3 separate regions of the Homo sapiens genome follow, and all the other regions are linked to region 1. The links come from fine-mapping of genetic effects on gene expression. A gene starts in region 1. Each other region holds a variant in brackets. All regions are shown on one strand. Distances are between the middles of the regions.

Region 1 (9,589 bases):
GAAAGAAACCTGAAAGAATATTCAACCAAATGTAAATAGTGATTATCAGTAGATGACAGGGATGATTCCTATATTTTAGTTATATATTTATTGTTTACCTTTTTCTAAATTTTCTAAAAATAAAAAAATTATATTTTTACTTACAAGCTTTTTTAAAAAAAACAAAATGAATGAGATCAGCCATCCACTTGTAAATATGGGATACTCTAGGTAATATCTGTAGATACATACGTCTTCCCCATTAGACTCAGGACCCTCGTGAATGACACCATAGATTATTGTTCCTGGGAACCCCAGTGTCTAGCACAGGGCCTAATATATGAGCTACATTTATTAAGAAACATTTGTTTAGCAAATGAATTCTGGATATGGCCAAAAACCCAAACAAGGTAACCCTGATCTATCCTCCAGATGGTACAAAAATGGCCAGGGTCTCCCACTAGCATCTGCCCGGGACTTCCCTGGGCAGCCTCCTTCCACAAATCGGCCCCCTGTTGGGGATGTGCTGATCAGCCAGAAAGATGCTATTAGCCTGCATTATAGCTTAATGTCCCTTGTTTTTAATATCTTCCAGCAAGTCCTTTGTCCTTACTCACCTAGCTCCTTTCCTTTTAGTATTGTCTACTGAATTGAGCCATGCTGTTTTGCCCAAATCTTGCTCTGAAAGAAGCTGTAAGAAACATGGCTAGGATGTTCTGTCTTGTATTTCTGCTAGAGATATCCAGGCCACTCCAATACTTTAAGAGAACCCACAGGAAAATCTGTCTCAGATCTCAATGCCATTAAAATAACTACTTTTCAGAGTAAGTGACACATTTTAATTTTATGAGCACTATGAATCTTGAGATTTTTCTCTCTGCTTGCAGCTGAGAGCCAAATCTACAGTGACCTTACTACACATGCAGGTCTGTCTGTAAGCTAGCTTTTCCTCTTGTTTCATCTTACTATTCTTCCCTTCCTCTAGATGACCATGCTTTATCTTTACTTTTTCCTCTCTCTCAGATCATGTGTATTTTTAGAAGTCCTTTTGGAATGAGGCAAGGTTTAAACAAACCAAAAAATTAAATACAACCCCAAAGCCCCCAATCCCATGCTGTCTTTGGAGATTTTTATCCATGCAGCTTGCCTGCAGGACAAGAAAGTAAAGCTCCACACCACTCTCCTTGCTGTCAACCAGGGGCTGACCTTTATGTGCATTTGTGACAAGAAAGTCTGTAGACCAGAGGCCCCTCCCTTTCGACTTCCTGACCACCAGCTCTAAAATACACATTTGACCGCCAGTGTGAATGGAGCACTATGACTTAAGGCAGAATAGCAAATGGTTAAGAGTGCAGACTTTGGCCAGGCACAGTGATCCCACACTTTGGGAAGCGAAGGAGGGTGGATCACAAGGTCAGGAGTTCAAGACCAGCCTGGATCCTGTCTCTACTAAAAATACAAAAAAAAAATTAGCCGGGCATGGTGGCGGGCTGCCTGTAATCCCAGCTGCTCGGGAGGCTGAGGCAGAGAATTGCTTGATCCCGAGAGGCGGAGGTTGCAGTGAGCCGAGATCGCGCCACTGCACTCCAGCCTGGGCAACAGAGCGAGAGTCTGTCTCAAAAAAAAAAAAAAAAAAAAAAGTGCAGACTTCAAAGCCAGACTACCTGGGTTTTAATACTGCCTGCTACATCCCCCACTCTAACTGTTGACTTTAGACAAGTTAAATAACATTTCTGCGCATCTTTATTTCCCCATCTGTGCAACAGGAACAATATAATGGTACTGATCTCATAAGATTGTTGAGAGCAGCAAATGTGTTAACACGTGTAAAGTGACTATACCATTGCCTAACACACAGTAAATGTGGGACAGTACTACGATAGGACATTTCTGTTTTTGTTTTTTGTACTCTGTTGAGACGGGGTCTTGCTATGTTGCCCAGGCTAGTCTCAAACTCCTAGCCTCAAGCAATCCTCCCACCTCAGCCTCATAAAGTGCTAGGATTACAGGCATGGCCCACTGCTCCTGGCCATCGCTTTTTTTTTTTCTTCAACTAAGCTAGCCCACACAAAGTTTCAACTCTGATTGGCAGTAATGTTTCTCACTGTAAATTACTAAACTGGCAAACCCATTTCTATGGTAACTTTGTGTCTGGATCTCATTTGTAAATTAATGTTGATTCAAAATTCCCTTTATCCTGAATCAAGGACCAGATAAAACAAATTAAAATAAAATAAAATGCAAAGTTCCCTCTAAACACCTGTCATGTTTAACCATAAGCTTTCTGATGTGAAGGAGAAAGGAGGTTCCTGGGAATGTATCCACAATTAGTAACAGGATGACCCTTAAACCCCCAAGTGTGAATGAACCCACATGTATACATTACTGTGTACACACACACACACACACACACACACACACACACACCTGTCAATGTCCCTCCATTTGCAATATAGACAGCATTTAATACGCATGAAGAGATTTTTAAAAAGGGCATTCTTTAACGTATTTCAACTGGCAGCAGGTGATCAGAAAAAAATAAGATAAATAAAATATTGTTTAGCTATCAAAGAACAACTCTGCACTGTTAGATACTTAAGGTCCTGATTTGCACCTGAGTTTAGAAAGCTACCTCATACATATGCACTTAAAATGGAAATTTCTCATCAGATTCCACATCTAATGCAATGCAGAACCCAACTCTAGCTGTGCCCCATCTTTGCCCAGGGCAGAGCCAGTCTCAGCAACTTCCTTCACACTCAGCCCACCAAGATGTCAGTCCTCAGTGAAGCACTATTCCACATACGTACGTACATGATTATCAAATAAAGGGACTTCATACTCCAACTGCAGGAACGCAAAGAAACAAAACTAGATAAGTATGAAAGCTATAGAGTTTAGGAAAATCAAGGAAAAAAGTAATCACTGAAACTCATCTCTTGCAAAGAAAGTTACTTCAAAATTTGACGTAAATGGATTAAATTTCAGCATTTCGCTATACCGAAATTACACTATGGGAAGAAAAAACCCAAGAATACATCGGAGCCATTTATCTTCCATTTCCTGTATTTCCCTTAATTACCTACCCAAATGAATGCACGTAAGAGTTGTTAAAGTATTGAAATACGTCAGTCCTTTCTAATTACCTACCCAAATGAATGAGCGGAACAGTATGTTACAACTTTTAATTAAAATACGTCAGTTTCTTTTACAATTATCTTATTTCTGCATATCACAGAAAATATTCTAAGAACAGAGCAAAAATGAACAAGGACAATCCGCCCAGAAAACTGCTTTGAGGAATTTAGTAATCTCAGCCCTCTCAGGTTTAGCACGCCAACGTCTTTGGGAGAGCAAAGGCAAAGGAGATGATAAAATGACACTTCCAAATAGCAACAGCTGAGATCACTGCCGCATCCTAGATTCTTTCCACCAGGAGCGCGAGTATAGGGTTTTTTTCTAAACGCTCTTCCCAAGATCCCGAGGTCAATTTCAAACGCTGCTCCACGCTTAAGTCCCGAGGGAGGCTCGCTCGCCCACCCCACCCTGCAGGGATTGCACTTCCCGTTCGCTCTGGCCGGTCAGGAACCCTAACTTGACAGTGACAAACACTGAGAAAAGAGGAAGTGGCTAAAGATCATTTCATGACATTTTTTAAAGGGAGATCAATGGCCCTGTCTTTCCGGAAAACTTCCATGGGACGTTGCCATCACACCCTCTGAAAGTTTCAGCGAATGACAACGTAGCAAAAGTGAGGGCTACTCCCCTTTAAATATATATATATATATTAATCCTCGAAATCCTCTTGCTATCAAAATCGATCCCTCCTCCGTAACAGCGAACGCAAAACTAAGAGCGCCCATCCCGGTGGGGCCGATCTCGGAAGCCAGGCTCGGGGCCGGGTGCGCGCCGGGTCCTCCCTGCCAAGCTGCAGAGGAGGCGCCGGCACCGCGGCGGTCGCAGGACCTGGCAAGCGCCTACCTTACCTCCCTCACCTGGTTTGACTGGTTTGGGTGGCGGCTTCGACATCTCGCTTCCTGGAGCTGCAAATCCTAAAGACCCCGCCGAAAAGCCCACCGCTTGCCCGCCACCTGGCACTCCGGGCACCCCAGTTCTTTTTGTCTGGCTTACAACCGTGCGCCTCCTAGGACCGGCGCCCACCCTTGGCTGCGGGAAGAGCGGACGCAGGCAGAGCGGCTCCGCCGAGTGCTCCGCCCCGCCCCGCGGCCGCCGGAGCAGTCCAGAGCGCGCGCCGGGCCGACGAGGAAGTGGACCCCGCCTAGCCGAGCGCTAATTGGCTCCCGGGCTGGCAGCTTCGCCGCAGCAGGAGCGCGGGCGGCGCGCACGGCGGCGGAACCAGCCGGAGCCGAGCGAGGGCGAAGCGGGCGTGCGCCAGTGCAGTGCCGCGGGCCGCGCGCGCTCCCGATAGGGAAGGGCCGGAGCTGCGCAGGGGCGCGCGGAAGAGGCCAAGCTAGCCGGAGCCCCGCCCCGCCCCGCCCCGCCCCAACGGGGGCTGGAACCCGGCGCCGAGAGTAGAGAAAAGGGGCCTCTGGTGACCGCCCCTACCTGGCATCCCTCTAACCCAGGAGGAGCGTGGGGAAAGGGGCTGTGGGCCTCTCGGGGAGCGAGCTGCGGGTAGCGGCGCACTGGGTACAGGCGCGCGCTTGGCTGTCGCCTCTGCCGCTGTGTTTGGGAGGACTCGAACTGGCGCCAGGTGAGTGCGTACCTGCTCGCCCCTGCCGCGCCGCGCCGCCTTGCTGGGGCCTGGAGGTGTTTCCAGAGGGTTTCTGTGCTGGAGCCCGGGACTTGGTTGCGCCCTGAAAGCCTTGCCTGGACTCTTGCCACCCTCACAGAGCTGATAGGTGGCCTGCCGAGGAGGACGTGTACTCATGGTGGCGTGGTGCTCTAGCGCCCCGGAATAATCCTGAAAATGGGAACGCTGCCTCCAAGAGACCGCGCAGCCTGGAGAAGTCGCCAGGGACAGGATCAGGACTTGATCCTCGCGGATCGATATGGTCTCATTCCTCTAGCGTTGGGGTGATGACCTACTGCCCGCCTGCTGCCTGTTACTGTAAGGCCTGCTAAGAATTTTTTTTTTTTTTACTTTTTTTAATGACTGAAAAGAAATAAAAAGAAATATAATACTTTGTGACACGTGAAAATTACATGAAATTACGATTTCAGTGTCCGTAAAATTTTACTGGAACACGGTCACGCTCATTTGCATCTGTGTTTTCTGTGGCCGCTTTCGCATTACCCAGCAGGGTTGAGTAGCAGCTGGCAAAGCCCAAAGCATTTCCTGTCTGGCACTTTACAGAAAAAGTTTTCCTACCCCTGATCTATCGGATTGAATCTTCGGTGGGAGGAAAGAACTGGAGCACACAAGGAAGCCAATGGCATAAGTTCAAAATAACAGTCAATATTGTAAATTAATTGTATATTTGGGGAAAGAAAAAACTGTTTACCTAAGAACCTACATAAATGAAACCAATGGGGGAGGGGCATGAATTGCGTTTTCAAAAACCCCAGCCCTTCACGTCTGTAATCCCAGCACTTTGGGAGGGCAAGGCGGGTGGATCACGAGGTCAAGAGATCAAGACCATCTTGGCCAACCTGGTGAAACCCGATCTCTACTAAAACTGCAAAAAATTAGCCGGGCGTGGTGGCAGACGCCTGTAGTCCCAGCTACTCGGGAGGCTGGGGCAGGAGAATCACTTGAACCCAGAAGGCGGAGGTTGCAGTAAGCCGAGATTGCGCCACTGCACTCCAGCCTGGCAACAGAGCGAGACTCTGTCTTAAAAAAAAAAAAAAAACCCAGCCTTGAGGGATTTGTTTACCAAAAGGGAGCAAAGTTTAAACAATAGTAGGAAAAGACTGCCCTATCTCCTGGAAGAAGAGAATCAAAATAGCTGTTGGATAGAATACAGAGTAAGAAGTCCTGGAAACATTTTTCTCTTTTTAAAATATCAGACTGTCCTGTAGATACATTTGAAGAGCACATTTAGCTTTGTCAGCTGTCTTTCAGATCATTTGCGTTAGAGAGCTGCGTTAGAGAGTTCGTACAATCTGCTGATTCTGCACATGCCACTTCTGACCATTCTGCAGTTTAGAATCCAAAAGGCAAGTGTTTAGTAGTGAAATGAATTAAGCATAATAAACACACCTGAATTATTTTAAAAAACCCAACATTTTACTTAGGGTTAAAAAAAAGTGTAAAAAATAAAATTAGTCATTTCAGGTTTGCTCTTGGCTATCCTAGTTTGTTCTCCTGCTATGCAAAAGCTCTCCGCTGTTGAGGAAAGCCTTGCACGCACTGGGAAAATAAACTACACAGATATTCCATGAGATTGAAGGTGGTGTGGATTCTAGTGATAGACGTGCCCTGAAATGATGACTCTTTGGACACATCACATGATTTACAGTTTGTACGAAGCTTGCATTTGCTTCATGAAGCCTGGCAACTCAATTGCGAGCTTTTTAAATTTGATTTTTTGTTTTGTTTTTGGTTTTATGGGAGGCAGTTTTTGGGTTGTTTTTTGCCTGTTTGTTTTGGTTTTTTTCAAGATAGGGTCTCGCTGTGTCACCAAGGCTGCAATGCAGTGGCACAGTCATGGCTCACTGCAGCCTTGGTGATTTTTTTTATAGGGGCAACAGGCAATGAAATAGTAGAATGTGATGTGGAGGTGGACAGTGCCAGGCCTGAACTTGGAGCTCCCCTAAAGCTGCCCTGTGCATCCACACTGTTTTTGAAATAAATGCCTTCAGGGATTGCTAGGCCCACCCCCCACCCCGCCCTAGTCACTTAGCCCAGTTGCCTCTCTTGTCTCTGCATGTTCCAGTTACCCACCCTTCCCATCACATTGTCACTTGCTCATAGCTGATAGGGTATGCCCAGCATTTACCCAAACACTGGCTTGGACAGGCCCAGACTGCTAACTAATGTAGAACTGGGAGTTCCTGTTTTGGTTAAAAAAAAAAAAAAAAAAAAAAAAAAACTTACATTTGACTGTATCTGAGAGATTTTATAAGTAGGTTTTTTATGCCATCTTACTCCTGGTTCCTGAATGCAAGTAACCCCCTCAAGCCTATTTCCCATGCCACAACCATGCTCACTTGTTATTTACATGCCATGTAATTGATGCAATGGTCACACGTGTAACCACAGATGTGGCAGTTTAGGACGGGGACCAGTAGTCCTTTCCATTCTGTGTGCACAGCAAATAGATGCCCCATCAATAATACATCAGTAAGAATGACATCAATTATACATCAGAGCCTGACAATTAAGCTAGCACATACCTAACACCCTTTCTTTGCTGTTAGTAATAAAGTGCTTTTTAGCAGCTTGGAGTGATAGAAAGAAGTCAGCTCAATTGGTTTAGTTTAATATCTGGCTTTTCCACTTACTGTCTGTGTGACCTTAGGCAAATTGCTCTATTGTCTGAGCCAGTTTCCACTTATGCAAAATGAAGGGGTAGACCAAGTAATCGCTAAAGCTATACTTCTCCAAGTTTGAGAATTTATGCTTCAGCGAGCTATCCAAAAATAATGGGGGCAAGGAATGACAAGGTTTTATGAATTTTTATTTTATTTGGTAAAGTGAGGATATCACTCTACTAACATCTTCTGACAACATAGTTTTGTAAGAGAAAGAACATTTATCACCACAAAAGTGAGATAAAGAGCAGCCTCTCCCTTCCCAAAAAAAGGCTAATTGGCAGCATTGAACCGACATACCAAAAAAATAAGAATAGGGTAAAATAAAATTCAAAAGCAGAAAAATTACAACATAAAAATGTATTTTACAATATTCATTGTATGCAGTCATTCCCTCGATACATCTTGTAAATTTGGATGGAGATGTGTATTCAACAACATAACTCTGGATGAAACTTAAATATGCAACTTGTCTGCTATTTTATTTTATTTTTTAAGACAGGGCCTCACTCTGCCACCCAGGCTGGAGTGCAGCGGCTCAATCTCCACTCACTGCTACCCCCACCTTGTAGGCTCAAGCAATCCTCCCACCTCAGCCTCCGAAGTAGCTGGGACTACAGGAGCATGCCACCATGCCTGGATAATCTTTTGTATTTTTGGTAGAGGTAGCGTTTTGCCATGTTGCCCAGGCTGGTCTCAACCTCCTGAGCTCAAGCAATCCGCCTGCCTTGGCCTCCCAAAGTGCTGGGATTATAGGCATGAGCCACAGTGCCCTGCTGCTATTTTATCACAGTCATTATTGATTCTTGTCTCACATAGACTTGTTAATGGAAGTGGACCCCAGTCTTAAGCAATTGTACTCAATGTGGGATATTTAGATAAGCCAAGAAGTCAGACAACAATAGCCCTCTTCCCACCAGGCTTTTTTCTGCATAACCCCTCCCCAGGGAGAGTGTGGACACAGATCATAGAAACTGGAGCATTGCTGGGAGCCTCCAGCTTGGCAGGCAGCCGCTTGCCCCTGGCTACACGGCCTAGGTCCCTGGCAACCCCCCTGAGCAGATAGGAAGGAAGAAGAGTGGCCTTCAGGGATGACCTTCAGGAGCCACTATTCTAAGATTCCCTCCAGCTGTGCTTCACCTTTTCACTTAGTGAGAAAAATGGCCCATTGTAATAACCAAGGACTACTTTAGTGAACGTTAGGGAGGCATGTATGAAACTGCCCTCCATCCCCTAAACCAAAAATCCACAAAACAGTGGCCGGTGGCTTAACTTGGCCCTCTGCCTGAACATTTGCAGTTTCATGTAGAAAGCACAACAGAAATCCAATTAAGAGAAATGATAGCCCAATAAAAGGGAATTTCATTCTTGTCATTAGTAGACCTGTTAAAAAAATTATGATTATATGTTGAATTTCATCAAAAAAAATTGTGAAAATGTTTTTTCTCTTGTTATATAAGTCCATACATAACAACCTAGATTTTGCCTCTTGGCCCACATAGTGTCAAATATTTACTGTCTGGCCTGTTTCCAAAAAAAATGTACCTAGCCAGGCCCAAGACCTAGGCTTTTGGGTGAAGAAATAGTGTCTTTAAACGGCATTAGCTTCATTTTGCCTCTGGCCAGCAGTAACTTTCTTCTTGTCTCATAAGGGCAGTATCTTTAAACGGCATTAGCTTCTTTTTGCCTCTGGTCAGCAGTGACTTTTTCCTTGTCTCATGAGGGGAGAAAGAGGCCAGCCCACAGGGGTCCCTCCCTCACTGATAATGAGTCATACCCAGGCGACTGAATCGTGAAGGTGGAAGGCAACCTGGCTAAGGAGAGGATGAAACTTCATATACCACGCTGTGGCCTAGCAGTTCTTCCACGCCCAGAAAACAGACGTTCAAGGGGGAGTGCTCCGGCAGGTCACCTGACGTTGAACTGTTTGACAGTCCTGAGCACACCCCAGTGGTTGGCACTCAGTGGTAGCAGGGGAAGCCAGTGCGGCGGGAATGTGGATAATGCGGGGCTGGGCTGAAAGGTCACTGTCATCCTCCCCTCTCAGCTGGTGCTCCTAATTTAGGATTCTTTTATCTCCCTAGACATCTAAATGAAATGCATTTGATTTGTTTGTTTGTTTTTTTACTTTTAGGAAATATTAGGAAGCTGTGATTTTCAAAGCTAATTATGA
Region 2 (9,411 bases), 62 kb before region 1:
AATCAACAATCCCTCAAATCACAATTTAAAACTCCTTATTGAGGTGGAAATAAGGAAAGAATTTTCATAGATTTTATAAAATAAAGAATAAGAAAATAATACATGATAATTTCTTAAGTATTGGCTTCTTTCATAATAAAGAAATTATGTTGAAAAAAATGAAAATGACATATACAGAATAAAGTAAGTTTATCACATAGCTTGTAGTAACAAGGAAAATGAAACAGTACTGGATGTACATTGTTACAGTTTTAGTATTAAACCACAATCAACATGCAACAGAGGAGACCCACAAAGGAATGTGAACGCAATGAAACTTTTATTGTGTATCATTATGAATTATGTAAAACTATTATCAACAGCACAATAAAAAATGCATGCAAGCCATTAAAATAAGCAAAGCATATCAACAAAGATTGAGGACATGAAATGGCCTTGTGTTCTCATTCAGTTGAAGTAATTACAAATTTTACTGGGCTCTTGGTTAAAAAGGAAACATAGTCGCCACAAGTATTTACTGAAACATTACCTATTTGCCTATTTATGATGATTTCATTCTTAAGATTCCTCAGTGGATCTAAAGGACAATGCTGCTACTAAACAAAGCCGTCCAATACATTTATTCTTATTCTCCAACTTTAAAAGGAAGCATCTTAAACATGAAAGTGCTATTCACTGCTGATAGATGAAATAAAGAAAAAGCAGAGTGAACATTGATATTCTGTAATAGGACAGACTCCACGGGATTGAGTGATCTTGTTATTGTAGTAACTAAGAGACCATAAAAATCAGGACACAAGACATTCAACTCCTGTTTATCTAGGAGAGGTAACAGGGGACGGCCAAAAAACATGGGATTATAAACTCTACAATGGCATTTTGGTTGGCATTTCAATTTCTTCTCATATTTGCCACATTAAATCAGAAGATAAAAGGTTTTTTTTTGTTTGTTTTGTCTTTTGTTTTTTTTTTGAGATGGAGTTTCGCTCTTGTTGCCCAGGCTGGAGTGCAACAGCGCGATCATGGCTCGCCACAACCTCCGCCTCCTGGGTTCAAGCGATTCTCCTGCCTTGGCCTCCCGAGTAGCTGGGATTACAGGCATATGTCACCATGCCCGGCTAATTTTGTATTTTTAGTAGAGACGGGGTTTCTCCATGTTGGTCAGGCTGGTCTCCAACTCCCGACCTCAGGTGATCCGCCCGCCTCGGCCTCCCAAAGTCCTAGGATTACAGGCATGAGCCACCATGCCTGGCCTCAGAAGATAAAAGTTAAAAAAAAAAAAATAGTTGATTTAATCAGGCCCTTTCCATTCCCCTGTGTGTGGCTAAAATGGAATTAAAGAAAAGGAAGGAGGAGAGTGCTGAATATAGAGTACCTGGAAAATTGACTCAAGGAAAACATGCCCACAGTGGGAAAATGGTCTCACGCAGTAATACAATCTAGAAGGAAATACCCATGGCAACCATCTCAGACCCCTTGCTTCCAATTCCTCACTTGCTGGTCAGCTCTTGTACTGACTTATGTTTCTCATAGCAAGTCACTTCCAGGCCTCAGGCTCCAGCTATTAAAAAGGGGATGGGTGTAAGGCACTGGACTGGACATCTAAGGACTGTTTAAAGACAATATGGAAGAACAATTCTCATATGAGCAGTTATAGTTTTCCTGCTGAGATTTCCTAGCAAGGAATAATTGCTTAGTAGTTAGAACTAGCAGTAGCAGTTTCAGTTTCAACACCAGAGGAAAATAAATACATTAATAAATAGTAGTGGTAGTGGTAATAATTAATGAATTCACATAGCAGTATACAAGACACTATTGCTAACTAAAAATGAGAAATGGGGAGAGAGAGAGCTGATAAGGCATGATTTCCCATTTTCAAAAACAGAAGAAAGGCATTCACAAACGTCATACAGTATCTATATATGGTGGCTAAAACATAAACAGTCTGTGAAATGCAATGGCTCATAGAAGAGCAAGACTCCCAGCATTGCCCAGAGCAGGTCTAAAGATCCAGTGAACACCTCCACCACACCAGACCACACTCACATACTCAGCTGTGCCCTCAAGTGCTCTTTCATCCTGAGACCAACCACCTGAGCCCCAGATCTGAGATTAAGCACAGGGGTTTGTCACGCGTTCTGATGCAGATGAGGCGTACCACACCCTGGAAAGTTGACACAACCACCACAGAGGGTTAAGCTGTGACCCGAAGCTCAAAAATCAGGTCCTGGTCGAAGACCTCTAAGAAACTGATGCAGCAATGATAACTTGCTTCACACAAGGAGGAGCTGGTATCACCTGATCCTAATTTTGGGCATATCATGTGGACCAAGGGACCTGGTCAATGTCACAGGCTCAGGATGACAGAGGACTGCATGCCAGCTTTCCCTGAACCCTGCTGTCAGGGTGGCATGCCCTCTCTGAGAGCTTTCAGGGCCATGAATCTCTCCAAAGCCATTTCTAGTTTCAGTCAATGACCAGCTTTGTGTGACTCTTCAAGCCAACCTGTGTCCAAACAGGCATCACATCCACATCTCATACTCACTGTTGGCATGAAGCATTTTCTTGTGGCCTCAGGAATTCACCTTCTGAAATGGGTAATAACAAAATATGCAATTTAGTTCTTTTTTGTTCACCTTGTTCAAAGTTAATATGATTGTATGATACTTTAAAGTGTCTTCAATTCTCTTTTTGTCATTGAAGCTGTGAGACTAAATTCTTGAAGTTTAGACTTTATAGGGGAACCTATGAAGGTGCAAAGTCTATTCATTTGAATAATAGTATTGTCTGAATTTTGAAGTCATGTAAGAGCAGGATAGTAACACCAAACACCTTTCTGATTTCAAATCATCATGTATCAAACATCAGACCCACGGTCTATCAAGCCCATCAAACCACTTGAAAGCAACAGGATAAAACTGAAACAGTGGCAGAGACAATCTCCCTACTTCATCTTTGAATTACTGTAACAGTAATAACCAGGTCTTTTCCAGTTATATATCTCTTCTCTGTAACTCAAATAAAGTACATTTATATTGAAAAACTCGGCCGGGCACAGTGGCTCACGCCTGTAATCCCAGCACTTTGGGAGGCCAAGGCGGGTGGATAACTTGAGGTCAGGAGTTCGAGACCAGCCTGACTAACATGGTGAAACCCTGTCTCTACTAAAAATACAAAACTTAGCCAGGCGTGATGGTGCACACCTGTAGTCCTGGCTACTCGGGAGGCTGAGGCAGGAGAATTGCTTGAACCTGGGAGGCGGAAGTTGCAGTGAGCTGAGATCGCATCACTGCAGTCCAGCCTAGCAACAGAATAAGACTCCATCTCAAAAAAAAAAAAAAAAAAAGAAGAAGAAAAAGAAAAACTCTACTACCACATATGAAGAAACCTAAATGACTGGAAGGCAACATCATTGTCCTCCACTCATTTTTAAAGTATTTTAGGAAATTCTGCTCTTCAATATTGGTGGTGAAACTGAAAAACGTGTTGACACACTCCTTTGTATAACACACATATCTGGTTTTAATGCAGACTTCCCTGTTCATGGTTATACCCAACATTAACTGAGCAACTGCTCAGTAGTAGAGTTTTTCAGGAACTAAGTCATTTGCATATATGATTTTATTTAATCCTTCTAACTCTAGGCAGTAGATACTACCACTTCCTCCACTGCACAGCTAGGGAATCTGGGTGTTTAGGTAACCTGTCGCAGGTCACTCAGCAGAATCAGGCTTGAATCCAGACAGTGTGATTCCAAAGCCCATACCCCTCACCACTTCTCGAAGCATTCTACTAATTTCTGTCAGAACTATGGGTCATTTAGAAAAGGTAACCATTTTTCCTTTGAGGCTCAGCCTCTTCACTCCTTGTCTATTCCTTCCACTTTCCTTCCTGCTTCCTGTCAGGCTGTCTAATGTATACCTTTGGATTTCCTCAGTGTTCTTTTCCGGGCACCGCGAGGAACCTGGCCTCCCTGTGGCTCCCAGTTGCCCACAGGGCTGAGCCTGCTGGGAAACCCAAGCCGCTGGCCACTGGCGACAGACACAGCAGCACTGCCTGGGAATTGTGAAGTTACTTACCTCCATGTACACATCGAGCTCCCAGACTCAGGTAAGACCACATCCCCTGACCCTTCCAAGGGATGCATTTATTTTCATGGTTACACAGAAGTGAGGAGCTCTCAGACTCTCTGAGAGAACTGCTGAACTTAGCAATGTAAACTCAAAGCAAAATGAATAGGTGCTGATCTAAGCTTTCCTTCTCTTATACTTACTCATACTCTAATGTGTACAGAGTAGGAAATTTTGGAAACTTGGGAGTAAAACCTGCTTCATTAAATATTTCTTTAGGGTTACTGGGAACTAAAAGTTTGGTGAAAATTTCTCTGGAAGCGCTTAGGGTCATTTTAAATAAATTATGAATTGATTAGCAGATATGCTGAATTTGTTAGATGCCTATATCAAGGGCTTCCGTTGGAAAGAAGCTGTCCTGTTTCTGCAGATTTTTCTGAGAGAATGTGAATGATGACATCTGACTGTTGCAGCAGGCAATAGCGCGTGGGTTCCCCAGACCCGTGTGTCCACCTTCAACCAGTTCCTTCACTTCTTCAAACCTCAGCGTCTCTGTAAAAAGTTGGGGCATTAACATTCCTCGCCTAAGGTTACTGCAAAGATCAAATGACATCATGTCTGTGAAAATGTCTCGCACAGGCACTGGAAGAGTAGACATTTCATAAATGGTAGTTTTATTTAATTTCATGTCATTTTAAGGGAGGGGCAGATGTAAAAGCTTGTTATTGA[G/A]AAATAAGGAAACAGAAGCCACAAATTTGTGGTCTGCAATTTTTCCTTCACATGAGAAAACTGTTCACCAAAGCTATATTTGCAAACAGGAATACCAGAATCTTTTACAATATTTCTCCCACTAAAACCTCAACTTTTAGTAATTGGACACTTCAAAGTTTGGCTATACAATCTTTTCCTGCAATATACATATTTACAATATAAAAATCAAGACAAAAAATACACAGTCTGAGTCAATAGGGAAGGCAGATAATCAGATGTAAATGTTAGGTTCCACAGCCTATCAGAAAAGAAATCATCATTTACAAAGATGATAAATATAGTGCTCACAATAAGAAAATTAGTAAATCAGAAACTCTACACAATAAAAAACATTTATGAAGAAGGCTTATGTGGAAAAATTACATTTCCATCTTTAAAATTATCTGCAAATTACCTAAAATTTCGTTTTCAGCATTATTTCCTTTTTTTTTTTTTTTTTTTTTTTTTGAGATGGAGTCTGTCTCCATTGCCCAGGCTGGAGTGCAATGGCGCAATCTTCGTTCACTGCAACCTCCGCCTCCCGGGTTCAAGCGATTCTCCTGCCTTAGCCTCCCAAGTAGTTGGGATTACAGGCACCCGCCACCATGCCCAGCTAGTTTTTTTTTTTTTTTTTTTTTTTCCTAGTAGAGACAGGGTTTCACCATGTTGGCCAGGCTGGTCTCAAACTCCTGACCTCAGGTGATCCTCCCGCCTCGGCCTCCCAAAGTGCTGGGATTACAGGCGTGAGCCACCGTGCCTGGCCTATTTCCAGTTTTTTTTTTTTAAGATTAATAAAATGGAGTCGCCATTGCTTTGTTCAACATTTCCCTTTGAGTAATAACATAATTAATCTACTGAAAAGAGGAGCCATGGGGGCTTATAAAGAAATGCTGTAATACATGTCAGCCCAACAACAACAAAATGTGCAACAGAACAGCCCAGAAAGAAAACTGAAATGGGAACCTCTGATAAGAATTTTTCTTTGCATGAGGCTCCTGGGCCTACAACTAAACAAGTATCGCACTGCCCAAGTAGCTGGAAGGCATTTCCTATTTAAAGGGTGCAATCACTAGAAAGGAGTTCAGGCCACAGTGACTGTCAGCAAGCTCAGATTACAGCAAAACCTCTGAAGTTATTTCCAAAACATAATCAGAGCTCTCCTCTGCACAGTCAGAGCAGTGGCAAATTCCTAGAACTGATTTTTGTTGCTGAGTTCAGCACTAAACAATCTCTGAGAAAGCTCAGATTAGCCAGGCTGAATAAACAAGAAACAAACCAAAAAAATTTCCAGTGGAGTTTCAGCCACAACTAAATGAGTTGTCCTGTTTTACCAAAAATTCATGCACATAGCTAAGCACTCTCCTCATCTTCAAAAAAAAACTATAGTTGTCCAACTTTCTAAAATTCTCTTAAGTTTGATAATGTTAAAAACAATGATAGTGAGACCTCCACTATTCTTTCCCTCAGATATACAAATAATATATCTAAAGCAAGTACATGGTATTTTGATAAAAATTGTCTATAGCCACACAAGCTGTATTATTTCTGCCCATGTTTTAAAAATTAAGAGTCTTTAGTTGAAATCCATCCTAATTACCCCAGCCCAAAGTATAGAAGAACAAAAAGTTACAGGGTTCTCTAAAAGCTTTTTGTTAAGAAACAAGCCCCATTTTAAAGAAAAATCTTAAAGGATCTATAGGAATAGATACAATTTCAGGAAGAATTTCATATCTTCAAGTTTATGTTTAAGAAGAAATACAACTGGTTAAATCAAATTTAATAACGTATTTATTTTAAGAATAAAATGCCCTCTTTTGTTGGTGCCAGAATTTGTGTTCATACTTTGTTGTCACTAGTGGTACAGATTCTCTTCTACTAAAATTTAGTTGAGGGTGTTTGAAAGACCTCAAATGGGCTTCTCTGGGTATCGTTTCTCAAGGCTCCCACAGAGTGAAAAACCAAACAGTCACAGAATAAACTCTTATAGAGGCAGTTATTCATTTCCTGAGCTAACCCACTTCCTTCTTCATACATTTCCTTCTCTTCATCAACGTGTTTTTTGAAATTAGCATTGAAATCATCTTGCAAAATATACTTTTGGACCTAGGGCCGGGATTCTAGGCAAATTCCAATGGCCATGTCATTTTTACATCATCACTGTAGTGATACAAAATTAGAACGCCAAATGAAGTGTCATGTCAGTAGTACAGAAGGCTCCCTGCAATGCTAATTGTGTTTCAGCAAAAGAATCTGAATCATTATGAACTAGATCCATACTGTGAGAAAACAAATGTTATTAAAAAAACTGAATGCAAAAAATTTCATGGTTCCTGACTACTCCATATGGAAAAGTATGGCATCTATCATAAGGAAATAAATTTTTTTAACCTTTCAAATCTTAGCGAAACTGTAATGAGTTGTTGGGTTTCTCCACTCTAAATACAACCTTGGAGATAAAAACTGGAAGTCTCACAATTATTAAATTTACCTATTTTATTAGACATGCACCTTCTCAATGATTATTGTCCTGACTTTGATCAAAGCTAACACAAGAAGTTGAACTAAAATGTGGCTCTCATTATTCTTCTGTGCTAATAAATATAAAATATAATTTAAAAAATAAAATCAGTTCTTACCTAAATATAAAAAGCTTTACTTACTTAACGACAATGAGTGATACCACAGAAACGGACAAAAGAAATAAAGTCTCTCAAAATGTTTATTTTTGTCAGAATAGCTGACAATTTTCTGTTAAGTATTTTGGTTTATTATTATAATAAGCATTTCCCCCCCTTGAAAAATCCATTCAAAATATCTCAACCATTGAGGTAAAGCATTTTAACTAAAAAAAAAAAAAAAAAAAAAATCCTAATTTGTTTTTAAAGAAAAAAAAAAATCTTAAAATTCCTTTTGCTTGATAAATAGAAATAATATCTTCTTGTTCTACTTTGGTGAACATAAATGTGCCAAGAATCCAGTCACTTACTGGCAAACCAAAGGTGGGAACAATTCATTTACACGTTCTACTCAAACACAGTGCAACACTGCCGTGTTCATATATAATTTTCTTTATAGTTACCAACACTTTTCTGGCAAAGACAAAGTTTTGGAATGGCAAAAGCAACAGAAGTTTTAGATCTCAAAGCTCCAGAAAGGAATTAATCTGAGTCTTCATCATCGAGATAGTCCTCGGCATTGCTTAATGTTCGAACTGCATCTGAAAGAAAGAGGAGGGAAAAAAGCAAAATAGGGAAATTATAAACTGCTCAGATTTTATTTTTTCATTTTCAAAGCTCTTAAATTAGAATAGAATCTTCCATCTGACCCAGGGATTGTACTTTCCCTGAGGATCTTTCTCTGCTTTTGCTTTTCAGCCTAACCATTAAGTTTCTGTTGCCACAGAGGCTGATGATGCGTTCCACAGTCATGCAGAAGTTTTGGTCCTAGGTGCCATGCATCCATTTCCAACAGAAAGGCCTAGCCACAGGCACCATGACCAACATGATACACCACCAGCAGCACTCCACTCTGACAACTGAGCTTCCAACCTCCTCTCCCAGTGACAGCCTGAGGTCTTGCCTAAAGGCAAAGTCACTAGGTAGGACGTTAACTACCGAAGGGGAAAAAGGAAAAGAAAGAATGAAAACAAAGAAGCTTCCATTTCAATGTAGAAAACACCGACAATAAAGCAAAAGGCTGAAATGGGGGGGAAAAGTTTTAAAATAGAGCTGGACCCCATCAAATGTTCAAGCAAACTTGAACAGGACTCAAAAGGAAGACATCTGATCTTTCACAGTCACCCCTTCAACTGTCTAGTCAAATTCCTATAGCAACAGATTAGCCCAAGTATAATTTTAGTGGGAAAAACAGAATGCAAACACAAGCACATTGTTGAAGTTCAATAAATATATGTCACAGCACCCAGATCTTCATGATCTCTAAGTATCACATCTCTGAAGCTTATTATACATATGACCGGTTCCAAGTATGGGGCAGGAAGTGTAAGGGATGGACCTAGAACCCTAGTCATGTCATAAAGCAAGCATCCTAACAAAGACAGCATCACGTGAAAGGGTCTGAGATTCAACTTAAAGAGGCCTCCACTAGCCAAAGATGGGCTATTGATAAAGCTACTAATTGGAATGGATTAAAGCACATTAAATATTTCAAGGCACACCAAAAAGAACTCATCTGTCACCCTTTGGAGGATGACAGAGACCAGCTTATTATTTTAAAACCTCTTAAATAAAGGTCAAAAATCAAGCATTTATCCTGCCCTTGCTACATTAACTGTTCCTCTGCGTAACAAAACAATTGATGAGGGAAAACTTTTCCTAATAGAATGTTCCAGCTAATAACTCAAAAAGAAGTGATTTAATTAGAATATCATCATTTTGTGCCGTTTAGTGAAGTAACAGATCTAGGCAACGATCATCAATGGATGTCACATCACAGGAAGAGTGACAACCAGGTATCATGTGCCCCTGATAAAAGAACACAATATTCTATATGATTTATTATTCCTTCTACTACCAAGAAAGATACATGATTAGGTAGGTAGGTAGATAGGTAGGTAGGTGAAGAGATGGAT
Region 3 (11,191 bases), 160 kb before region 1:
ACCTAGACATAATGGGACTATCTTGCCCATGACACAGGGCCAGTCTGATGTCAGCACTACCTTTTCTGCCAGCCTCTCTCAGGGATTGCCTGGCTGAACCCACTTGCTCAGCAGACTCAGATGCCCAAATGGGGTAATTCCCAGTGGCCACCACCATCAGCTCCATCACCAGAAGACTCTGCCTAACATCAAAGGGCTTTTACAGACAGGCTCCACTAGCACATACTTGCCCACAGTCTCCCCCACTGCTTTGCCAGTATGCATAAGGACTTTGCTGCCACTACCCCACCATGGACAGCATGCACACAGACCCCACTGCTACTGCCCTGCCCAGATGAAGTGCTTTCCCTAGCAACCTTCATCATCAGAGTGTTGTTGCCATCAAGCCAGGAACACCTTGAACCCTCCAAACAGCAGGTGATTAAATTCAAGAGGCAAGAGAACAAAGCTGCGCACCTGGTCTCACCCCCTCATGGTTACAGCATGCAACCAAGGAGAGCTGAGCTAAGCCTTGACCCCAAGAAACCATCCAGAAACAAAGCCAATCAATTAAACCCAACTTAAACCACAGTCAAACCCTCAAGGACATCAAAAAATATAAAAGCAAAAAGCCCCATCCAAAGGACAGCAACTTCAAAGAATAAGGAACATCAGCCCACAAAAATGATAAAGAACCAGTGCAAGAACTCTGTCAGCTCTAAGAGGCAGAGTGTCTTCTTACCTCTAAAAGTTGGCACTACCTCCCCAGGAATGGTTCTTAATCACACAGCAATAATGGAAATGACAGATGTAGAAATCAGAATCTAGATGGCAATTATGATTGCAATTCAGGAGAAAGTTGAAAACCAACCTGAGGAATCTAAGGAGTCCAGTAAAAGGATTCAAGACCTGAAAAAGAAAACAGCCATTTTAAGAAAGAAGCAAACTTATCAGATAAAGCTGAAAAACTCACTACAAGAATTGCAAAATACAATTAGAAGTATTAACAGCAGAATAGGCAAAGTTAAGTTCAATCTCAGAACTTGAAGGTCAGTTTTTTAAATGAACTCAGAAAAAAAATTTTTTTAAGATTTTTTTAAAGCATGAACAAAACTTCTGAGAAATATTGGATTATATAAAGAAGCCAAAACTACAAACATGAGTGTCCCTGAAAGGGAAGGACAGAAAGCAAGCAACTTGGAAAATATATTTGAAGATACTGTCTGTGAAAATGTTGCTAACCTCACTAAAAACATTCAAATTCAGAAAATTCATAGAATCCTGCAAGATGCCGTAAAAGATGACCACACCCAAGACACATAGTCCGATTCTATAAGGTCAATGCCAAAGAAAAAATATTAAAGGCAGCTAGAGAGAAGGGGCAAATCACCTACAAAAGAAACACCATCAAGCTAACAAACAGACCTTTCAACAGAAATTTTATGAGCCAGAACAGATTGGAGCTTATATTCAGCATCCTTAAAAAAAGAAATTCCAGTCAAGAATTTTATATCCAGCCAAACTAAGCTTCTTAAGTAAAGGATAAATAAAATCCTTTTCAGACAAGCAAATTCTAAGGAAATTCATTACCATTACACCTGCCTTAGAAGAGGTTCTTAATTGAGTGTTAAACATGGAAATAAAAGACTATTCTGGCCACCACAAAAACACACTTAAGTATATAGACCATTGACACTATAAAGAAACTACACAATCAAGTCTACATAACAACCAGTTAACACTACAATGACAGGATCAAATCCCCACATATCAATATTAACCTTAAACATAAACAGGCTAAACACTCCACTTGAAAGGGACAGAGTGCCAAGTTGGATAAAGGAGCAAGACCCAACTATATGCTGCCTTCAAGTGACCCACCTCACATGCAATGACACACATACACCCAAGGTAAAGGAATGGAGAAAGATCAAGCAAACAAACAAACAAAAAAAAAGAGCTTGAATTGCTGTTCTTATTTCAGACAAAAGAGACTTTACAATCAACAATGATCAAAAAAGACAAAGAAGAGCATTACGTAGTAATAAAGGGTTCAATTAAACAGGAAAATTTTAATGCTCCTGCATATATATCCATCCAATATTGAGCACCCAGATTCATAAAACAAGTTCTTAGAAACTTACAAAGAGATGTAAATAATGACACAATAATAGTAGGAGACTTCAACACCCCATGGACATTATTACACCAATCGAGACAGACAACTAAACAAAGACATTCAGGACTTAAACTCAACACATGACCAAACGGACCTAACATATCTATAGAACACCCCACCCAACAACAGAATATACATTCTGCTCATCTGCATATGGCATTTACTCTAAAATCAACCACATGTTTGGCCATAAAGCAATTCTCAATAAATTCAAGAAAAATTGAAATCATACCAACCATATACTTGGACCACAGCACAATAATAGAAATCAATACCAAAAAGACCTCTTAAAACCATACAACTACATGGAAATCAAATGATATGCTTCTGAATTACTTTTGGGTAAACAATGAAATAAAGGCAGAAATCAATAAATTTTTTGAATCTAATGAAAACAGATACAACATACCAGAATCTCTGGGACACAACTAAAGCAGTTCTAAGAAAAAAGTTTGGGCCAGATGCAGTGGCTCATGCCTGTAATCCCAGCACTTTGGGAGGCCAAGGCAGGCGGATCACCTGAGGTCAGGAGTTTGAGACCAGCCTGGCCAACATGGCAAAACCCCATCTCTACTAAAAATACAAAAATTAGTCAGGCATGGTGGTGGGCACCTGTAATCCCAGCTACTCAGGAGGCTGAGGTAGGAGAATCACTTGAACCCAGGAGGCAGAGGTTGCAGTGAGCCAAGATCATGCCATTGCACTCCATCCTGGGCAACAAGAGTGAAACTCTGTCTAAAGAAAAAAAAAGAAGAAGAAGAAGAAGGTTTATAGCACTAAATGTTGACATGAAAAAGAAAGATCTCAAATTAATAACCTAATCTCACACCTAGAGGATCTATAAAAACAATAGCAAACTGATCCCAAAGCTAGAAGAAGAAATAAACAAAATCATAGCTAAACTAAATGAAATTGAGATGTCAAAAATCATACCAAAGATCAACAGAACCAAACATTTGTTCCTTGTAAGAATAAGTAAGTTTGAGAGTTCTGGCTAGACTATAACAAAGAGAGAAGATCCAAATAAACACAATCAGAAATGACAAACGGGACATTACCACCAATCCCAGAGAAACCCAAAATTCCTCAGAGACTGTTATGAACACCTCTATGCACAAAAATTAGAAAATCTAGAAATGGATAAACTCCTGGAAACATACAACTTCTGTATTCTATCCATTTTTACCTTTCTATAAAAAACTACCTAAGACTGGGTAATTTATAAAGACAACAGGTTTAATTAACTCATAGTTCTGCAGGCTGTACAGGAAGCATGGCTGGGTAGGCCTCAGGAAACTTACAACTGTGGCAGAAGGTGAAGGGGAAGAATGAACGTTCTACATGTCCAAAGCAGGAGGAAGAGAAGAATGGTAGGGAGGTGCCACACTTAAACAACCAGATCTCATGAGAACTCACTATCACAAGAACAGCAAGGGAAAAATTCACCCCCATGATCCAATTACCTCCCACCAGGCCCCTCCCTCCAACACTGGAGATTACAATTCAACATGAGATGTGGGCAGGGACACAGAGCCAAACCATATCATTCCACCCCTGGCCCCTCTCAAATCTCATGTACTTCTTAGATTGCGAGATACAATCAACCCTTCTCAACACTCCAAGTCTTAACTCTTTTCAGCATTAATTCAAAAGTCCACAGTCTGAGGTCTCAACTGAGACAAGGCAAGTCCCGTCTACCTATAAGCCTGTAAAATCAAAAACAAGTTCGTTACTTCCAAGATAGAATGAGAATACAGGTATTGAGTAAATATACCTATTCCAAAAGCAAGAAATCAGCCAAAACAAAAAGGTTACAGGCCTCATGCAAGTCTGAAATCTAGCAGGGCAGTCAGTAAATCTTAAAGCTCTAAAATAATCTCCTCTGATTTCATATCTCACATCCAGGCCACACTGATGCAAAGAGTGGGCTCCCAAAGCCTTGGCAAGTTCCACCCCTGTGGCTCTGCCAGGTACAGCCCCCTTGGCTGCTTTCACAAGCTGGCATTGAGTGCCTGAAGGTTTTCCAGGCACATAGTACAAGTTGTTGGTGGATCTACCATTCTGGGGTCTGGAGGACAGTGGCCCTCTCCTCACAGCTCCACTAGACAGTGACCCAATGGGGACTCTGTGTCGGGCCTCCAACTCTGCATTTCCCCTCTGCACTGCCCTAGTAAGGGTTCTCCATGAGGGTTCTGCCCTTGCAGCACACTTCTGCCTAGATATCCAGGCATATCCATACATCCTCCAAAATTTAGTCCGAGGCTCCCAAGCCTCAACTCTTGCCCTCCACACACCTGCAGACTTAACACCACACCCTCTGGAGCAGTGGCCTGACATGTATCTGGGGCCCTTTGAGCCATGGCTGGAGCTGAAGAGGCTAAGATCCAGGGAGCAGTGTCCCAAGGTTGTGCAGGACAGCCGGGTCCTGGGCCCAGCCCATGAAGCAATTCTTCCCTCCTAGGCCTCTGGGCCTGTCATGGGAGGGGCTGCCACAAAGTTCTCTGAAATGCCTTCAAGGCATTTTCCCCATTGTCTTGGCTATTAACATTTGGCTCCTCTTTACTTATGCAAGTTTCTGCAGCCTACTTGAATTCCTCCCCAGAAAAATGTGTTTTTCTTTTCTACCACATGGTCAGGCTGCGAATTTTCCAAACTTTTATGCTCTGCTTCCCTTTTAAATATAAGTTCAGATTTCAGATTATCTCTTGCTCATGCATATGACCACATGCTGTTAGAAGTGGCCAGGCCACATCTTGAACACTTGGCTGCTTAAAAATTTTTTCCACCAGATACCCTAAATCATCTCTCTCAAGTTCAAAGTTCCACAGATCCTTAGAGCAGGGTCACAATGCTGCCAGTCTCTTTACAAAGGCATAGCAACAATAACCTTTACTCTAGTTCCCAATAAGCTCCTCAACTCCATCTGAGACCACCTCAGCTTGGACTTCATTGTCCATATTACTATCAGCATTTTGGTCACAATGATTTAATAACAAGTCTCTAGGAAGTTCCAAATTTTCTCTCATCTTTCTGTCTTCTTCTGAGCCCTCCAGACTGTTCTAACCGCTGCCCGTTACCCAGTTCCAAAGTAACTTCCATATTTTCAGGTCTTTATCGCAATGCCCAATTCCCAGTACCAGTTTTCTATATCAGTCCATTCTTACATTGCTATAAAGACCTCCCTGAGACTGGGTAATTTATTTAGAAAAAAAAAAAAAAGTTTTAATTGACTCACAGTTCCATAGACTGTACAGGAAACAAGGCTAGGGAGGCCTCAGGAAACTTGCAGCAGAAGGCAAAGAGGAAGCAGGCATATTCTACATGTGTGGAGCAGGAGGTGCTACACACTTTTAAACAACTAGATCTCATGAGAGCTCACTATTATGAAAACAGCCAGGGGGAAGTTCCTTCCCGTGATCCAATCACCTCCCAGCAGGTTCCTCCCCCGCCACTGGGGATTACAACTGGACATGAGATTTGGGCAGGGACACAAATTTAAACCATATCAGCCTCCCAAGATTGAACCAGGAGGAAACTGAAACCCTGAACAGATCAATAATGAGTTATAAAATTGAATCAGTAATTAAAAAAAACTACCAAAGCAACCCTAAGCAAAAAGAACAAAGCTGAAGGCATCACACTACTCAAGTTCAAACCATATTACTAGGCTACAGTAACTAAGGCAACATGGTACTAGTACAAAAAACAGACACATAGACCAATGGAACAGATTAGAGAACCAGAAATAAAGCCACATACCTACAACCACCTGGTCTTCAACAAAGTCAACAACAACAAGCAATGGGGAAAGAACTCCCTATTCAATAAATGGTACTTGGATAACTCATTAGCCATATGCAGAAGATTGAAACTGGGCCCCTTTTCACCATATACAAAATCAACTCAAAATTGACTAAAGATTTCACTGTAAATCTAAAACTATAAAAACTCTAGAAGAAAACCTAGGAAATACCATTCTGAACATAGGCCCTGGCAAAGATTTCATGATGAAGACTCCGGAAGAAATTGCAACAAGAACAAAAATAGACAAGTGGGACCTAATTGAACTAAAGAGCATCTGCACAGCAAAAGAAACTATCAAACAGACAATCCAGAATGGGAGAAAACATTCACAAATCATGCATTTAACAAAGATCTAATATCCATATCTATAAAGAACTTAAATCAACATGCAAAAATCAAGTAACACTATTTTTAAAATGGGCAAAAGTTATGAACAGACACTTCTCAAAAGAAAACATACAAGTAGCCAACAAACATATGAAAAAATGCTCAAGATCACTAATTATTATAGAAATGCAAATCAAGGCTGGGCGTGGTGGCTCACGCCTGTAATCCCAGCTCTTTGGGAAGCCGAGGTGGGCGGATCACGAGATCAGGAAATTGAGACCATCCTGGCTAACACGGTGAAACCCCATCTCTGCTAAAAATACAAAAGTTAGCCAGTTGTGGTGGCGGGCGCCTGTGGTCCCAGCTACTCAGGAGGCTGAAGCAGAAGAATGGC[G/A]TGAACCCGGGAGGCGGAGCTTGCAGTGAGCCAAAATTGCACCATTGTACTCCAGCCTGGGCAACAGAGCGAGACTCCATCTCAAAAAAACAAACAAACAAAAAAGGAAATGGCAATCAAAACCACAATGAGACACCATCTCATACCAGTCAGAATGGCTATTATCAAAAAGTCAAAAAATAACAGATGCTGATGAGATTGCTGAGAAAAAAAAATGCTTCTATATTGTTGGTGGGAATGTAAATTAGTTCAGCCATTGTGGAAAGCAGTCTGGTAATTTCTCAAAAAACTTAAAAGAGAGCTATCATTTGACCCAGCAATTCCATTACTGGGTATATACCCAAAGGAATATGAATCATTCTACCACAAAGACACATACACTTGCATGTTCATTGCAGCACTATTCACAACAGCAAAGACATGGAATAAACCTAGATGCTCATCAATAGTGGACTGGATAAAGAAAATGTAGTATATATACACCATGAAATACTACACAGCCAAAAAAAAAAATAAATGAAATCATGTCCTTTGAAGCAACATGGATGCAGCCAGAGGCCGTTACCCTAAACAAATTAATGCAGGAACAGAAAACTAAATACCACATATTGTCACATATAAGTGGGAGCTAAACATTGAGTGCACACGGACACAAAGAAGACAACAAGAGACCAGGGCCTACTTGAGGGTAGAGATGGGAGGAAGATAAGTATTAAAACACTACCTATCAAGCATTATGCTCACTACCTGAGTGATGAAATAATTTGTACAACAAACCCCAGTGACACAGAATTTACCCGTGTAACAAACATACACATGTATCCCCTGAACTTAAAAGTTGGAAGGAGAAAATAAATTAATAAAACGTACCTATTTTTTAGTACAGGTATTTGGTTAGAAAACTTTTTTAAAGGTTTGAATCTAATTGTGATATTTCCTTCCAGAAGTAGTTCTCAAATTTTAGCACACATAGAAATCACCTAAGAAAAGGAAGAGTGCTTTTCTGAAGCGATGCCTTTCCCATGAAAGCCAAACAAAATTCTAGCTTAAGAGAAACAGTGCAATTCAACACCCAGGGATAAGCTAGGAAACTGAGCCATATGAGGAATATGCAGTATTGGTTCCTGGCCACACAGCGTCACATTCTCACCCTAAGAGCCATTAAATGACATTTATGGTGAGGTGTGATCTTCCCTTACATCCGAATAAACTGAGGTTGCTGATAGAAATGCAGATTTCTGAGACTGGGACACATCCCAGATCTATTCATTCAGAAACCCTGGGGACTAGGTCTAAAATATGTATTAATATTTTAACAAATATTTGTGGTGACTTTTATTGACACTAAAGTTTGAATACAATCCCTAAAGGGAAGCTTCACAATTAGATTCATGTCATTCACAGCAACCTCTCCACCAAATGTATGCAGTTGGACTTCTGTGCCTTTTCAAAGTTATGGAACAGAGAAGTGACACTTAAGCAGAAAGAAATGAAACAAGAAAGACATAATATTGGGGAGAAATGCAAACATACTACAGGGGGTTCTGAGTCAGGAAGATTTAAAAATAAAAGTGATTTATAGCTAAGATAGGATACTATAAATGAAAACACTACATTCGAACTACTTTACAGAGATAATCATGGTGTTAAAAAGTGACAAATATAATTCATTTTATTATCATAATACATATTTTTGAAGATACAAATGATGCCATAAAAATATATTCTTAACTCGCAAAGGAGTCAGTAAGCCATTCCAATGTGCAGAATTCAACCACAGGCTGTTTAACAGGAACACAATTGCTAATCATCAAGCCTAAAAAGCAGAACAATAAATGTTCCAATCTGCTGTGGGTCAGCAACCAGAGAATAAATCTCACAATTTTTTTTTTCTTTTTTTTTTTTTTTTTGAGATGGAGTCTCCCTCTTTCACCCAGGCTGGAGTACAATGGTGCAATCCTGGCTCACTGAAACCTCCGCCTCCTGGGTTCAAGTGATTCTCGTGCCTCAGTCTCCTGAGTAGCTGGGATTACAGGCACCCACCACCACATCCAGCTACTTTTTGGATTTTTTTAGTAGAGACAGGGTTTCACCGTGTTGGCCAGGCTGGTCTCAAACTCCTGATCTCAAGTGATCCACCCTCCTTAGCCTCCCAAAGTGCTGGGATTACAGGCCTGAGCCACCATGCCTCGCCTCACTTTTTAACTGAGCAAGATTTTTACATGAAGGGAAAGTTTACAGCACAGAATTCAGGCTGGTATGGTTGGAAAGGAAATCTAATGATCACAATGAGGAGTAGGAAAGTACAAATCACAATTTGGTCTCTCCAGCTGAGTTCACCTACATGTATTATAGCCAGTAGTATAATTGACAATAACATAGATCATAGATGCTTTTGAAATGCTCTAGTTGAAAGGACTGAGATCATCAGACTGAACTTCCTCATTTTATAGATAAGGAAATTGGGCAAATAATTTAGCTTCTCTGGGCTTTAATGTCATCCCAACTCATTTGTTCTAAGGCAAGACTGCAGCCTGAATCATGAGACGTCTTCAGTGCTTTCTTCTATACAAATTCCCAAAATGTGACTACTCTGCTAAATGGTGATATAAAATAGAGTTGTTCATTGCATCTGTCTCAAAAGTCTAAAAATTCTACAAATTACTCTTGAGTCTCAACTATTTATTGAATAACTCCTATGTGTGGAATACTTTGTTAGATGTTGGAATTGAGAGAGAGAGAGAGAGAAAGAGAAAGAGAGAGAGAGAGACAGAGACAGAGAGAGATAAAGAGAGAGAAAGAGAAAGAGAGAAAGAGAGAGAGACAGGAGAGAGAGGGACAAAGAGAGAGAGAAGAGAGAAAAAGAAAAAGGAAAAAAGAGAAAAAGAAAAGGAGAAAAGAAAAAGAAACGAAACCTAGCAGAGATACTTTCAGGACAGGGTGACGGCTATGGTGTGTCTTCTATTTTGGATGTGTTGAGCTGCTCTTCCCTATTGGGCTAATTACAAGTTCTGAGACTCATTATTTACACTTTTCACCTGTTGTCTACTGGGATTTTCAAAAGAACAAGCAACATATTTCCTGAGGATCCCCCCAGCATCAAAGCTAAAGATTAAACAAATGAAATGTTTTAAAATTGAGCTGATATATCGGCTATTACCACTGCTATTGAATAAACAACGTTCAGGGGCCAAGAGGGTGACTGAAGTTGCCTCAGTTGTCTTTTCAGGAAGGAAAAGGGGTCCACTTTCACACTAGAGAATGCTTCTCTAAAATTTACTCAATGGGGCAACAGTTTACAAACTGTACAGAGCTCAAGAGTTCCAGAAATATGCTTCTTCTTGGATGGTATGTGGAGACAAAGGAGCTATGAAGTGGGGGTGTGGGAGGATCAAGTTCTGTTTTCAACTGAATCAGTTCTCTTATATAGCATATATATTTATATATTATATATATTCTTATATTATATATTATATATTCTGATAATATGTTATATATTCTTATAATATATAATATATTCTTATATAATATATATTCTTGTTATATATTATATATATTCTTATATTATATATTATATATATTCTTATAATATATTATATATTCTTATATATTATATATATTCTTATATTATATACATATTTTATATATATATATATATCAGGGTTCCATATAAGCTTTCATTCCTTCTCCCAAGAAAACATTTCTGCTGCCGCTGCTAGAAAGCATCTGACACATAACACTAACTCATCATGTAGATCAAAAATTCTAATTTCATAGAATGGCACGTATAACACTTTCAACAACCCAAACCCTTGTTTTGTAACTATATTTCATAGATATTTGCCTTCCTTCTCTATATATCAATACATCTTAGATCAGAAGAGTTTATAGTACTCTTTCAAGGAGACCAAAACAAAAAGAACACTGTTTAAATTGGTTTCTGTAGGTATACATGTAAACACAAAAATCCCAGATACCTATCAATCATCTTTTCTTTCTTTTCTAAAGAACTTGATTTCCTGCATGCTGGTACCTTGAAACCTATTTTAATTTAATCTTCATTAGTATATTTTCTATACAATGGTAATCATCGATCACTATAATATTTGGCTAATAAAAACATCAAAGGAAAATCTGTGTGATCTTTGTTAACACCACTTAATTAAAGGTCCTGTATTATCTGGGAGGGCCTCTGTGGGGATTTTAACTGGTGGCTCATTGGACACGCAGCTAGCTGAATAGATTGGCCCTTACTAAGACTGAATACAGCTCCATCACCGTTGAATGGATTAGTGGAATAATAATCAGCAATAAAATGCTATGGAGATCTGAGAAGTTAAATACATGGTAATAGTCATCCCAATAAAACTGTTCTGGAAATGACTAATGAATCATCTCAACTTAATAGTAATTCTGTCATACTAGGAAAGCAACAGAAATGGAGCCAAGCTGCACATTAGAAGCTACTTGAAGTCCCTGTGAACTGATGCCTTCTTAGGTTATGGCAG

The links.
Region 2: its variant is fine-mapped to the expression of NMRK1 in whole blood (TOPMed, PIP above 0.99).
Region 3: its variant is fine-mapped to the expression of NMRK1 in tibial artery (GTEx, PIP above 0.99).

The regions. Positions count from the first base shown.
Region 1 is chr9:75,083,112-75,092,700 of GRCh38, reverse strand. NMRK1 (nicotinamide riboside kinase 1) reads left to right here and starts at 4,546. Exons shown (of 9, transcript NM_017881.3): 1 at 4,546-4,693; 2 at 9,551-9,589. The coding sequence starts at 9,586. OSTF1 (osteoclast stimulating factor 1) reads right to left here and starts at 4,187. Exons shown (of 10, transcript NM_012383.5): 1 at 3,975-4,187. The coding sequence starts at 4,008. RefSeq lists silencers at 3,797-3,886, 4,077-4,676.
Region 2 is chr9:75,145,309-75,154,719 of GRCh38, reverse strand. It overlaps OSTF1 (osteoclast stimulating factor 1), which reads right to left. Exons shown (of 10, transcript NM_012383.5): 10 at 7,455-8,037. The coding sequence ends at 7,979. Among named protein-coding and RNA genes, the nearest start is that of OSTF1, 62 kb to the right of the region's middle. The variant G/A (reference allele first, on the strand shown) is at 4,800.
Region 3 is chr9:75,240,568-75,251,758 of GRCh38, reverse strand. No RefSeq gene overlaps it. Among named protein-coding and RNA genes, the nearest start is that of OSTF1, 160 kb to the right of the region's middle. The variant G/A (reference allele first, on the strand shown) is at 6,684.